Linked DNA regions of Homo sapiens. The protein of the gene in region 1 interacts with the protein of each later gene in a pairwise test. Each region holds a gene or a part of one and is shown in the gene's direction. Other genes may lie near its edges. The genes, in order: ORC4, MTUS1 and FBXL5.

Region 1 (3,653 bases):
AGTTGGGATTCCTTCTGTTATACACATGACATTAAGGAAGACTTTAAGATCATGAATTCTATTTTCCTTCAATTTCCTCTTATCCTAATGATGTTGTCCTTAAACTCTGAACATAAATTGGGTAGTTTATCTGAGTCCCCAGCTTTGTTAGGCAATGTGCTTTTATTTTTATTTTTGATTTTGATTTTTTGTGTTTATTTTTATTTTAAATGAGGTCTCGCTGTATTGCACACAATCATCCTGAATTCCTGGGCTCAAGCTATCCTCCTGCCTTGGCCTGTCAAAGGATAGGATTACAGGCATGAGCCACCACACCTGGCCTTGTGCTTTGATTTTTTTACCATAGACCGGCACATCTTCCATTAGCTCAGCCTTTTTTCTCAGCCTTTTCTTCTAGACAGGAAAATGTCCTCAGAACAAAAGTTACTTGGTGTATGGTTTGTTTCTGGTTTACCTTCACATGGAATTTGGTAAGTAATTTCACATTACTTTATTTCATTCATTATTTAGTTTTTTTGTTGGCGTCAGCAGAAAGGTTGGTCCTGTCTGCCACTACCATAAATAAAACCCTAATTGTCTTTCTTTTTTACTTCTGAGATTTGATTTTAATATATTTATGCTTTGAGCCAAAATTTTTTTAACTTAACTCATATATTTAAAAATTTTAATTTTTAATTACTATGGATACATAAAATGGGGAGTATGTGATATTTGATATAAGCATACAATGTGTAATGATCAAATCAGGTAATTGGGATATCCATTACCTCAAGTATTTGTCATTTCTTTGTGTTAGGGACATTTCATTTCCACTCATTTAATTGTTCTAAAACATACACTAAATTATTGTTAGCTGTAATTACTATATTGTGCTACTGAACACTATATTTTATTCCTTCTATCTAACTATATTTTTCTACCCATTAACCATCTCCTCTTGATTCTCCTCTCAACACTACCCTTCCCAGCCTCTGCTAACATCTTTTTACTCACTATCTCTATGACTTCAATTTTTTTGAAGCTTCCACATATGGGTGAGAACATGTGATACTTGTCTTTCTATGCCTGGCTTATTTCCCTTATAATGTCAGTCACATCCATATTGTTGAAAATGACAGGATTTCATTTTTTTTTTATGGCTGAATAACATTCCATTGTGTATATGTACCACATTTCTTTATCCATCCATTGATTGACAGTTAGGTTGATTCCATATCCTGGCTATTGTGTATAGTGCTGCAGTTAACATGGGAGTACAGATACCTTTTATATACTGATTTCCTTTCTCTTGGGTATATACACAGTAGTGGGATTGCTGGATTATAGTTCTATTTGTTGTGTTTTTAGGAAGCTCCATACTGTTCTCTGTTGTGACTGTGCCAGTTTACATTTCCACCAACAGTGTACAAGGGTTCCCCTTTCTCCACATTCTCACCAGCATCTGATATTGACTGCCTTTTCGATAAAAGCCATTTTAACTGGAGTGAGTTGATACCTCATTATAGTTTTGATTTGTATTTCTCTGATTATTAATAATGTGGAACATTTTTTTCATATGCCTGTTTGCCATTTGTATGTCTTTTTGAGAAATGTCTCCTCAGATCTTTTGCCCATTTTAAAATCAGATTTTTTTTTCCTATTGAGTCGTTTGAGATTCTTATATATTCTGGTTATTAATCCTTTGTCAGATATTAGTTTGAAATATTTTCTCCCATTCTACATGTTATATCTTCATTTTATTGTTTTCATTGCTGTGCAGAAGCTTTTTGGCTTGGAGAGATCTCATTTGTTGTTATTTTATTTTATTTTCTTGCTTTAGTTGCTTGTGTTTTTGAGGTCTTATTTAAGAAGTCTTTGCCTAGACCAATGTCCTGGAGTTTTTGCCTAATGGTTTCCTTGATTAGTTTCATAGATGTAAGTCTTTAATGCATTTTTCTTTGATTTTTGTATATGGCAAGAGTTGGGGTCTACTTTTGTTGTTCTGAATGTGGGCATCCAGTTTTCCCAACACCATTTATTGAAGAGACTGTCCTTTCCCAATGAGTGTTTTTGGCACCTTAGTAAAAAACTAATTGGCTTTAAATACACAGATTAATTTCTGGACTCTCTGTTCTGTTGTTCTACATGTCTGTTTTTATGCCACTATCGTGCTATTTTGGTTACTATAGCGTTGTAGTATATTTTGAGGTTTGGTAGTGTGGTAAGTCTACCAGTTACCAGCTCTGTTCTTTTTGGTCAGGATTGTTTTGGCTATTTGGGGTCTTTTGTGCTTCCATACAATTTTAGGATTTTTTTTTTCTATTTCTGTGAAGAATGTCATTGCTCTTGATAGGGATGGCTTTGAATCTGTAGATTGCTGTGGGAAGTATTGTCATTTTAACAATACAATTTTTTTCAACCCATGAGCATGGGATGTCTTTTCATTTGTTTGTGTCCTCTTCAATTAATTTCATCAATGTTTGATAGTTTGCATTGTAGTTGGTTAAGTTTATTTCTAGATATTTAATATTATTTGTAGCTATTGTAAATGGGATCACCTTCTTGATTTCTTTTTCAGATAGGTTGTCACTGTTGGCATAGAGAAATTCTATGGATTTTTGTGTGTTGATTTTGTATTCTGCAATGTTACTGAATTTATTAGTTCTAATAGTCGTTTGTTGGAGTCTTTAGGTTAGTATAAGATCACATGAGCTGCAAACAATGATAATTTTACTTACTCCTTTCCAATTTAAATGCCCTTTATTTCATTCTCTTGTCTGTTTACTCTGGCTAGGACTTCTGTTACTAACTTGAGTAATAGTGGTGAAAGTGCCCATCCTTCTTCTAGATCCTAGAATAAAGGCTTTCAGTTTTTCCCCCATTCAGTCTGATACTAACTGTGGGTTTGTTGTGTATGGCTTTATCATGTTGAGGGATGATCCTTCTGTCCCCAGTTTGCTGAGAGTTTTTATGAAGGGATATTGAATTTTATCAAAAAAGATTTTTTTGGCATCTATTGAAATGACAATACACTTTGTGTCCTTCATTCTGTTGATACCATGTATCACACTGATTGATTTACATATGTTGAACCATCCTTACATCCCTGGGATGAATCCCACTTGATTATGATGATCTTTTTAATGTGCTGTTGAATTTGGTTTGCTGTGTTTTGTTGAAGATTTTTATATCTATTTTCATCAGAGATACTGGCCTGTAGTTTCTTTTTTGTTGTTGTTGTATCGTTGTCTGGTTTTGGTATCAGAATAAATCTGGGGCCAGGCATGGTAGCTCACGCCAGTAATCCCAGAACTTTGGGAGGCTGAGGCAGGCAGATCTCTTGAAGCCAGGAGTTTGAGACCAGCCTGGCCGACATGGTGAAACCCCATCTCTACAAAAAATACAAAAATTAGCTGGGCATGGTGGCTTATGCCTGTAATCCCAGCTAATCTGGAGGCTGAGGCAGGAGAATCGCTTGAACCCAGTAGGTGGAGGTTGCAGATCACCTGGGCAACAGAGTGAGACTCTGTCTCAAAAAAAAAAAAAAAAAAAAAAAGAATAAATCTGGCCTCATAAAATGAATTTGGAGATCCTCCTTGATTTTGGAGAATGATTTGAGTAGGATTGATGTTAGTTCTTCTTTAAATGTTTGGTAGAACTCAGTGAAGCCATGA
Region 2 (4,122 bases), on another chromosome or scaffold:
GAAAACTGTGAAATACAGAGTCCTTACGTCTATTCTCCAAAAAAGTTCACTTCTCTTTAAAAGCTTTTAGCAAACCACAATCCAGGTAATTAAAAAGGAAATATTAAAATTTTGTTCTCAGGTTGTCTGACATTTCACGGTTCAGCAATGTGACATCTCTCACAGGCAGAATAGCATCTTCGGACAAGTTTTCTATTAAAAATATGCTTTATAGAAGAAAATATTTTACGGACCTAGAAGACAGCTGTCGATGAAATTTGCTCAGTTTAGCAAACAGCAAGGACTGTGTTTGTGTTTAGAGAAAAGTAGGTCGAGCCTAGTTTATCTCCCTGGGGTTCTAGACTCCTTTCCACGTTGTATCTCAAGCTCTAATAGCTGGAAAGCTACTTTCTTTAACCTTTAATACACACTTGCTAGTAAACTTGCTAGAAGCATGAAGATAATACAGACTGCGAATCAGCCCTTCTAAGAGACAATCACGACTCCTTCCTTGCAAGCTTCCGCCCTGATAATTCTGCAACCTTCCCACCTTCTATACGCCCCGCGGTGCGAGGCCCCTCGGCCTGCAGGTGGCCAGAGGCAAGCAGGAGTCAGATCCCCCACCTACCGCGGCCCGGCCTGGGCCCTAGCGCTGGGTGCGGCGGAGCCCCGGGCTCCTGCGGGGACGAGCGTGGTCCCGGGACGCGCGGTGCAGCCAGGTGCGCCGGCGGCAGTGGCAGCCGCTGAGCGCCGCGTCGCACGTGGCAACAGGTGCAGCGCTGTCCCGGGCTGGCGCCGGGGGGCGTGGGGCGCGTCCGCACTTAGTCCGGGAGCGCGCGGAGCGTCGGGATTGGGACCCGAGAGCGGGAGCGGAGAGCGGGAGCGCCCGAGCGGAGTCCAGCGCCCCGAGGTACGGCCTCGCACGTCATTCAGGTTCCCCGAGGGCCGTCCCCTGGGACGGCGGCTGGCCTTGGTCTCCCGCAGCGAGCCGCTGGAGTGGAGCCTTCGGAAGGAGCCGCCCCGGGTTGGGGCGGGAGGCCCGAGTTCGGCTATTTACAAGTTTCCCGAACTCCCCGCCCTGCTCCACCCCCTGGCGGCCCCGGAGGCGGGGAGGCGGGGAGGCCGGGGCTCCGGGTCCCGCCTGGTAGCCGCCGCAGGCGTGGGGTGGTGCCGCGCCGCGCGCCCCCAGGTGCAGACGCCGCCCCCGAGACCTCCGGGGCGGGTTCTCGGCGACCCCGCCAGTGGTGCAAAGGGCGCCAGCCCTCCCCGCCTCTGCGTCTTTGCTCCCGGAGCGCTTGAAGGAGCTGCGGGTAAGTGCGCGCTGGAATCTGTTCCCGCTGCCCGGCGGCCGGGGTGGGGAGGGGACAGGCGAGCGCGCCGCCCAGGGTGACGGGACCGGTCCTCGGGGAGGGGAGGGGGCGTTCCAGGGGCCTGGGGGCCGAAGCTGAGGGCTAAAGGGGGCGGCAGCGCCGGCGGAGCGGAGGCGGGTCTCACGTGGGCCAGCGCAGAGCCTGCGGAAGGGACGGATGCGGATCTCGTCGCTGTCACCTTGAAAGTGACCGAGGGGCTTGACTGTGGACTCCTTACGCCGCCCACCCGGGCCCGGCGGTCCCAGCCTTCTCGCAGGGCCCCTTCTCAGCAGAAGCAAGCGGGGCCGAGAAAGCGGGTGGAATAGGGTTGCTGCAGGTCCCAAAGACCCCTCGTGGCGCCTCGCTACTTTCTGCAGCTTGTTTGCACTTTTTCACGCTCTAGAAAAATCTCATCTTAATTAAGGTGACCTTATTGACTACTCTATAGTGCTTAGTGGACTTAGGTGTTCACTGAGGAACGTTTTTGTTCTTTTTTGAAGACGTACTCCTTTCTACCAAGTTGTTTGTTGATTTTTGACTTGGAGTAATTTGGGACTAGGAAGGAAGAGGTTAATTCATTTAGCCTGCGTAGTTACACATACTCTGTTAAATACTGTTTGTTTGAAGTAGTCAGTGTTCTAAGAAAGGAAATCCAGTGTGTTTTGTTTGTTTCAATGAAACCAAAGTCTTAGGCAAAACGGTGCGTGGAAGCTTTCAAGTTTTGCCAGGTGCAGGTGATCGAAAGTCAATCATCACTAAATCACAGCGCTGGGGCTGGAGGGTGGGAGTAGGGGTGTTACCAGTGAATTTCAGGAGGAAGGGAGGCAATGCAGGAGGGAGGGGATTAAAAAAGAGAGTCATTGCTTCCTGGGAACCAGTGACCTCTTTAAGGAGGGTATATACAAGATAACAGTGCATGGACAACTTTAAAAGGAATTGCATAAACGGAATTGCAATTCTGTAGACAGTTTGCTTTTTCAGGGATGGTTAGGGCAGGAAATGATACACAACTTAAAATGGTGATGTCCTGTTAGTACAGTGCTTTACAGTGTAGAAAGTGCTGTTACAGATTTTTTTTTTTTCATAGGCAATATATTCCATTAGGAAAGCTATACAAAGAAAAGATTAGAACTACATGCTTATCCTTAAAACCAAAGCTAAAAAACCTTAGAAGTGGAATTTAGTTTAAAATAATATGTAGTTATTTATGTAACTTGCACCACGTTTTTTCACCTGTTCTTTTTAAAATCAGGTTTATGAAGAGAAAATAATTCTTGGTAAATCTGCTTGGTAGAAAATCATGCTTGGAACAAGACCTTTTAATTATGTCAATAAGTCAAGGTTACATTTTGGAGTATAATAGGATTATAAGATTCTAGATAATATCTTATATTTTTTGGAAACTAACCTGCAGTTATTACACTCAAGCATTTAAAAAGCCTGTTACTTAATAGCCCTGTTCTGTTAACCCTGTTTGTTTTGATTTCAAAAGTAATCCGTGCTTGCTGTATAAAAATAGGTAGATTGAGAAAAGTGAGTTAAGCAATTTCAGCAAAGATAATCACAGTTAATATTTAAGAAAATACTTGTTAATATATAGAAAAATTTTTTATAGTTATATAGTTTATCTAAATATACTATTGCGTGGAGGTTTTTTCCTGATTAATGTATCATGAAAAATTTTCCATGTCATGAAATCTTCAGAAATCTTAGTGGCTACTTAATATTACATTACATAGATGTATCAAACTGGTTTTCATTTATTTCCACTTACTAAATATACTTTTGCAACAAATACGTTTTTAAAACTTTATGTGCAGGGTTAATATCCTTAGTGCCCTTGAAATACAGTTGATGGTTGGAAGATCTCCTCATACATATTGACCATTTGCTTTCCAAAAAATGTTTAACCAAATTATGTTCCCACCAGCTCTCTGTGAGAATACTGGTGTTACCGTATTCTTGTCAACATGTAGAATCATCCTTAAAGGGAAAAAAAAAAAATTCTTCCCAGGTTTATAGGTGAACAGTGCTTTCTCTATATTTAAACTTCAATTTCTTTGATTACAGATGATTTGAACACCAAAGAAATCTAGTTGTTTTCCATTTTGAAATTTGATGTAGTGCCAGATTTTTCTCCTGGGATATTAGTATTTTTCCATTAATTCATAAGAGCCTTTTATGGATTGATAGTAAATCTTTGCCATTCATATTGCAGATACTTTTCCCATTTTATCTTTGCTTTATATATTTACAGTAGTTTTGACATACACAAATTTCTTTAATGTTGATAAATCTGTTGACTTTCTCAAAACAGAATTTTTAACACTTCTAAATCGTAGCTTCAGAACTATATGTGACTGTGGTAGAAGATTTAAAAAAAATTTTCCAGCCGGGTGCGGTGGCTCACGCCTCTAATCCCAGCACTTTGGGAAGCCAAGGCGGGCGGATCAGGAGGTCAGGGGTTCGAGACCAGCCTGGGCAACATGGTGAAACCCCGTCTCTACTAAAGATACAAAAAATTAGTCAATTGTGTTGGCATGGATCTGTAATCTCAGCTACTTGGGACGCTGAGGCAGGAGAAGCGCTTGAACCCGGGAGGTGGAGGTTGCAGTGAGCCGAGATCACTCCAGTGCACTCCAGCCTGGGCAACAGGGCAAAACTCCATCTTAAAAAAAAAAAATTCCCCAAATTCTAAATTAGAATCTTTTCAAATTCATTGCAAGAACTTCCATATCTTGGGTTAGAGACTGTTGCAAAACTAATTGCATTTGTTGATGAGAAGCCACTGGGC
Region 3 (3,653 bases), on another chromosome or scaffold:
TTATAAATTATGCTACTATAAAGACACATGCGCACATACGTTTATTGTGGCACTATTCACAATAGCAAAGACTTGGAACCAACCCAAATGTCCATCAATGATAGACTGGATTAAGAAAATGTGGCACATATACACCATGTAATACTATGCAGCCATAAAAAATGATGAGTTCATGTCCTTTGCAGGGACATGGATGAAGCTGGAAACCATCAGTCTTAGCAAACTGTCACAAGGACAGAAAACCAAATACCGCATGTTCTCACTCATAGTTGGGAATTGAACAAAGAGAACACTTGGACACAGGGTGGGGAACGTCACACACTAGGTCCTGTGGTGGGGGTAGGGGACTGGGGGAGGGATAGCATTAGGAGAAATACCTGATGTAAATGATGAGTTGATGGGTGCAGCAAACCAACATGGCACATATATACCTATGTAACAAACTTGCACGTTGTGCACATGTACCGTAGAACTTAAAAGTATTAAAAAAAAACAGTTGCTTATTGCCTAGGGCTCAGATGTTTTCTCTTTGTAGAGATTTTTATCGTAAATAGCTTAGTTTTTCATAATTGCAGGCAATCTGATATTATTTTGAACCTTTTACTTGTTTATTCATTGAGTAGGTGACTGGTATAGTGGTCCCGCAACTGAACTTGATACTGAACCTGATGATGAATGGGTGAAAAATAGGAAAGATGAAAGTCGTGCTTTTCATGAGTGGGATGAAGATGCTGACATTGATGAATCTGGTAAGCTTGTTTGGAATTAAAATTATTACATAGTGTTTTAATAATTGATAATTAAGTACTTATAATTATTAGGTATTAGATTTATGTATTTTGTGTTTTCTAAAGAAACTGGTGTTTCTAAGCCTACTACTTTTTAAAATTTGAAGGAATAATAATGAAATTTTAAATTAATTGAAGTACTTTAAAGAGTGCATAGGATTATTTCTCGTTTTTATATTAAAATCAAAAATCAGAAAATGGTACCTTTTTTCTTATGAAAATAATGTACGTTTATTATAGTGCTTTGTAGTTTACAATGTGATTTTAGCACCACTTCAAGTGATCAGTTGCACAGCATCTATTGAGTCATCTATGGCTTGAGGGAAATAGGATGAAACTGTTGAGTCGACTTACTCGTTTGTAGATAGTCTTAATACTTGCCTAATAAGGTTATTGTAGAATTAAGAAGTAATATACATAAATATTGTTTGTAAATGGTAAGGGATTACAAAAACTAATGTAGCCATTCATTAAACACTGTGGGAGAGTTCAAGGATGGATAAGACTTCATCGCTACTCCAAACAACTCACAAATGAGAGAGAATTTAGAAAACATAATTTTTAATTTAAAGTATATGATGGAAAAATGCTGTCATACTTGTGCAGAGAGATGCTATTTGGAAGTGTGAGGAGGAAAACAAATTCTGTCTTGGATATTCTAGATAATAATTATTAAAAGATGGTAAAATAGTAAAAAATGAACAGATGAGACATTCTTCTAGTTGGTAAAACTGAAACTATAGGAAATTTTATTTATAAAGTTACTTGCTTAAAGTAATTTGGTCTGGCGAAAGAATTAAATGTGGAAAAAAGACACGTGGAAAGTAACAGTGTAAGTATAAAGATTGTTGTATCAGCAGCTAAAGTAGTTTATTTTTATGAAACGCAGATGTGCCACATTTTGATGTAAAGATTCAAAATGTCCTATATAAGGAAAAGGTCTATTCTAGTTTGATAGATTTGGTGATGTGCTTACCTGTGGCAGGCATTGTTTTAGGTATGAAGGATCTAATGGTGAACAAAATGGAAAAAAGCAAAACAAAACTGGCGCTTGTTGAGCTTAAAATTTAGAGACAGGAGGCAAACAATAAATACAGGTAAAATATATTCCATATTAGATGGTGACAAGTGTTGTAGAGAAAAATAAGACAAGGAAAACATGCCAAGAAGAATTTAAAATTGCAGTTTTAAATTGAGCGATTAGTTAAGGTCCTTTGGGAAATTTGAGTAAAGACCTGAAGGAGATGAGATATTTGCTCAGATGTCAACTTAAGGAAGTCTCAGTTTATTCATTCTAGAAAATTAATTCATAATACCCGTGGTAAGAATGTTGAAGGTTCTCACAAATTCAGTGTATTTGTCTCCATACTTGAAGATAGCCAGAGGAAAGACTCAATTTCCTTCATATTGAAAAGGAAAAGTTAACGCTGTAAAGATTGAGCCTTTTTAGATAATATATCTGTTGATTATTAAAGACTAAACTGTCATTTACTTCAGTGCTTTTTTCGGTTTGGCTGCCTTGTCTTTTTACTTGTCCTAAGAAGTTATTGTTTTTCATAGAATGTTTAACTTTCTTAAAGATTTCACAGTTCCAGTTACCTTGATTTAATCATCACACATTGTATACAGGTTCCATAGTATCACATGTACCCCCAAAATATGCATAATTATTGTATATCAATAAAAAATTAAAAATTTAAAATTTTCACAGTAAATAGTATACATTTAGATAGTGAGGGCCACAGAAACAAAAGAATGGTTTGGGAATAAAATTATAGTAGGGCTCACTAAAGTAATTTTTATCTCCTTATATTTTATCTTCGTGTGTGTGTGTGTGCGTGTGTGTGTGTGTGTCTGTGTCTGGCTAAAGGAGGAATTTAGGATAATATCTAAACAAGGAACCATGAGTAACAAATTCTTTTAGTTGATATCCTTTTGTCTGCTATACTTAGTTTTGTTTTAAATGAGACTTCCTTAACTTATTCTGTTAAATCATTTTATGTTTAAAGACATTCAAATTGGTCTTTAGGTAAGAATAATAACAATAGGATCCTGAGAAAGGTAATACAATACAATTATTCATTCTTTTTAGTGTAGTGTGTTTTTTCCTTTTTTCGAATTGGAGTTTATGGTGTTTTCATGGTGGATGTTACAGTAGTACATTCTGTTGTAAACATCCAAGCTTTACAGAAGTTATTAAGTAAAACCAAAAGCCATGCTCATTTTTAGCTTCTTAGAAATTCTAAAGTACCTTCCTTTGCTTGATTCATTATGATCAGGCTAATTTAGTTGAGTTTCAAATCTTTTCTAGCTTTGTGCCCTTTTTAGTTATGTGGAATCAGTGATAGTACGTTTTACTATGGATCATTTTTCTTTTGATATCATATTTTCTTTTCTCTTGAAAACTTTTGCTGTTCTTTTCAGTTTTCACATTTTTTTCCAAAACCTTTTCATTGCCTAAAAATGGGATGGTTTACATAAGAAAGTATAAGGATAGCACAAAGTATGTCATATTTAACAATTTGGTGAGCGCTTGAGTAGCTTAATTATTATCAGTTTATCAAGTTCTTGGACTTTTGAATTCATTTTACAGAAGAGTCTGCGGAGGAATCAATTGCTATCAGCATTGCACAAATGGAAAAACGTTTACTCCATGGCTTAATTCATAACGTTCTACCATATGTTGGTACTTCTGTAAAAACCTTAGTATTAGCATACAGCTCTGCAGTTTCCAGCAAAATGGTATGTTTAAATTAACACTAGTTTGGGTATTAAGAAAAACAGCATGATAAGAGTTTGGTTTGCTCATTCCTGAGTTTAATTAAGGGGAAACAAACCCAAAAATGATTATTGAGTGCCTTCCTA

Evidence for each region.
Region 2: the proteins of ORC4 (region 1) and MTUS1 interact in a two-hybrid assay, tested with the Homo sapiens proteins (one large-scale study listed by BioGRID and IntAct).
Region 3: the proteins of ORC4 (region 1) and FBXL5 interact in a two-hybrid assay, tested with the Homo sapiens proteins (one large-scale study listed by BioGRID and IntAct).

The regions. Positions count from the first base shown.
Region 1 is NC_000002.12:148,010,731-148,014,383, reverse strand, and holds part of ORC4 (origin recognition complex subunit 4), read left to right. Parts: intron 1-3,653. UniProt on the Homo sapiens protein: Component of the origin recognition complex (ORC) that binds origins of replication. DNA-binding is ATP-dependent. The specific DNA sequences that define origins of replication have not been identified yet.
Region 2 is NC_000008.11:17,798,228-17,802,349, reverse strand, and holds the start of MTUS1 (microtubule-associated tumor suppressor 1), read left to right. Parts: upstream 1-1,255; 5' UTR 1,256-1,289; intron 1,290-1,432; exon of another isoform or gene 1,433-1,752; intron 1,753-4,122. UniProt on the Homo sapiens protein: Cooperates with AGTR2 to inhibit ERK2 activation and cell proliferation. May be required for AGTR2 cell surface expression. Together with PTPN6, induces UBE2V2 expression upon angiotensin-II stimulation.
Region 3 is NC_000004.12:15,627,762-15,631,414, reverse strand, and holds part of FBXL5 (F-box/LRR-repeat protein 5), read left to right. Parts: intron 1-623; coding exon 624-749; intron 750-3,381; coding exon 3,382-3,530; intron 3,531-3,653.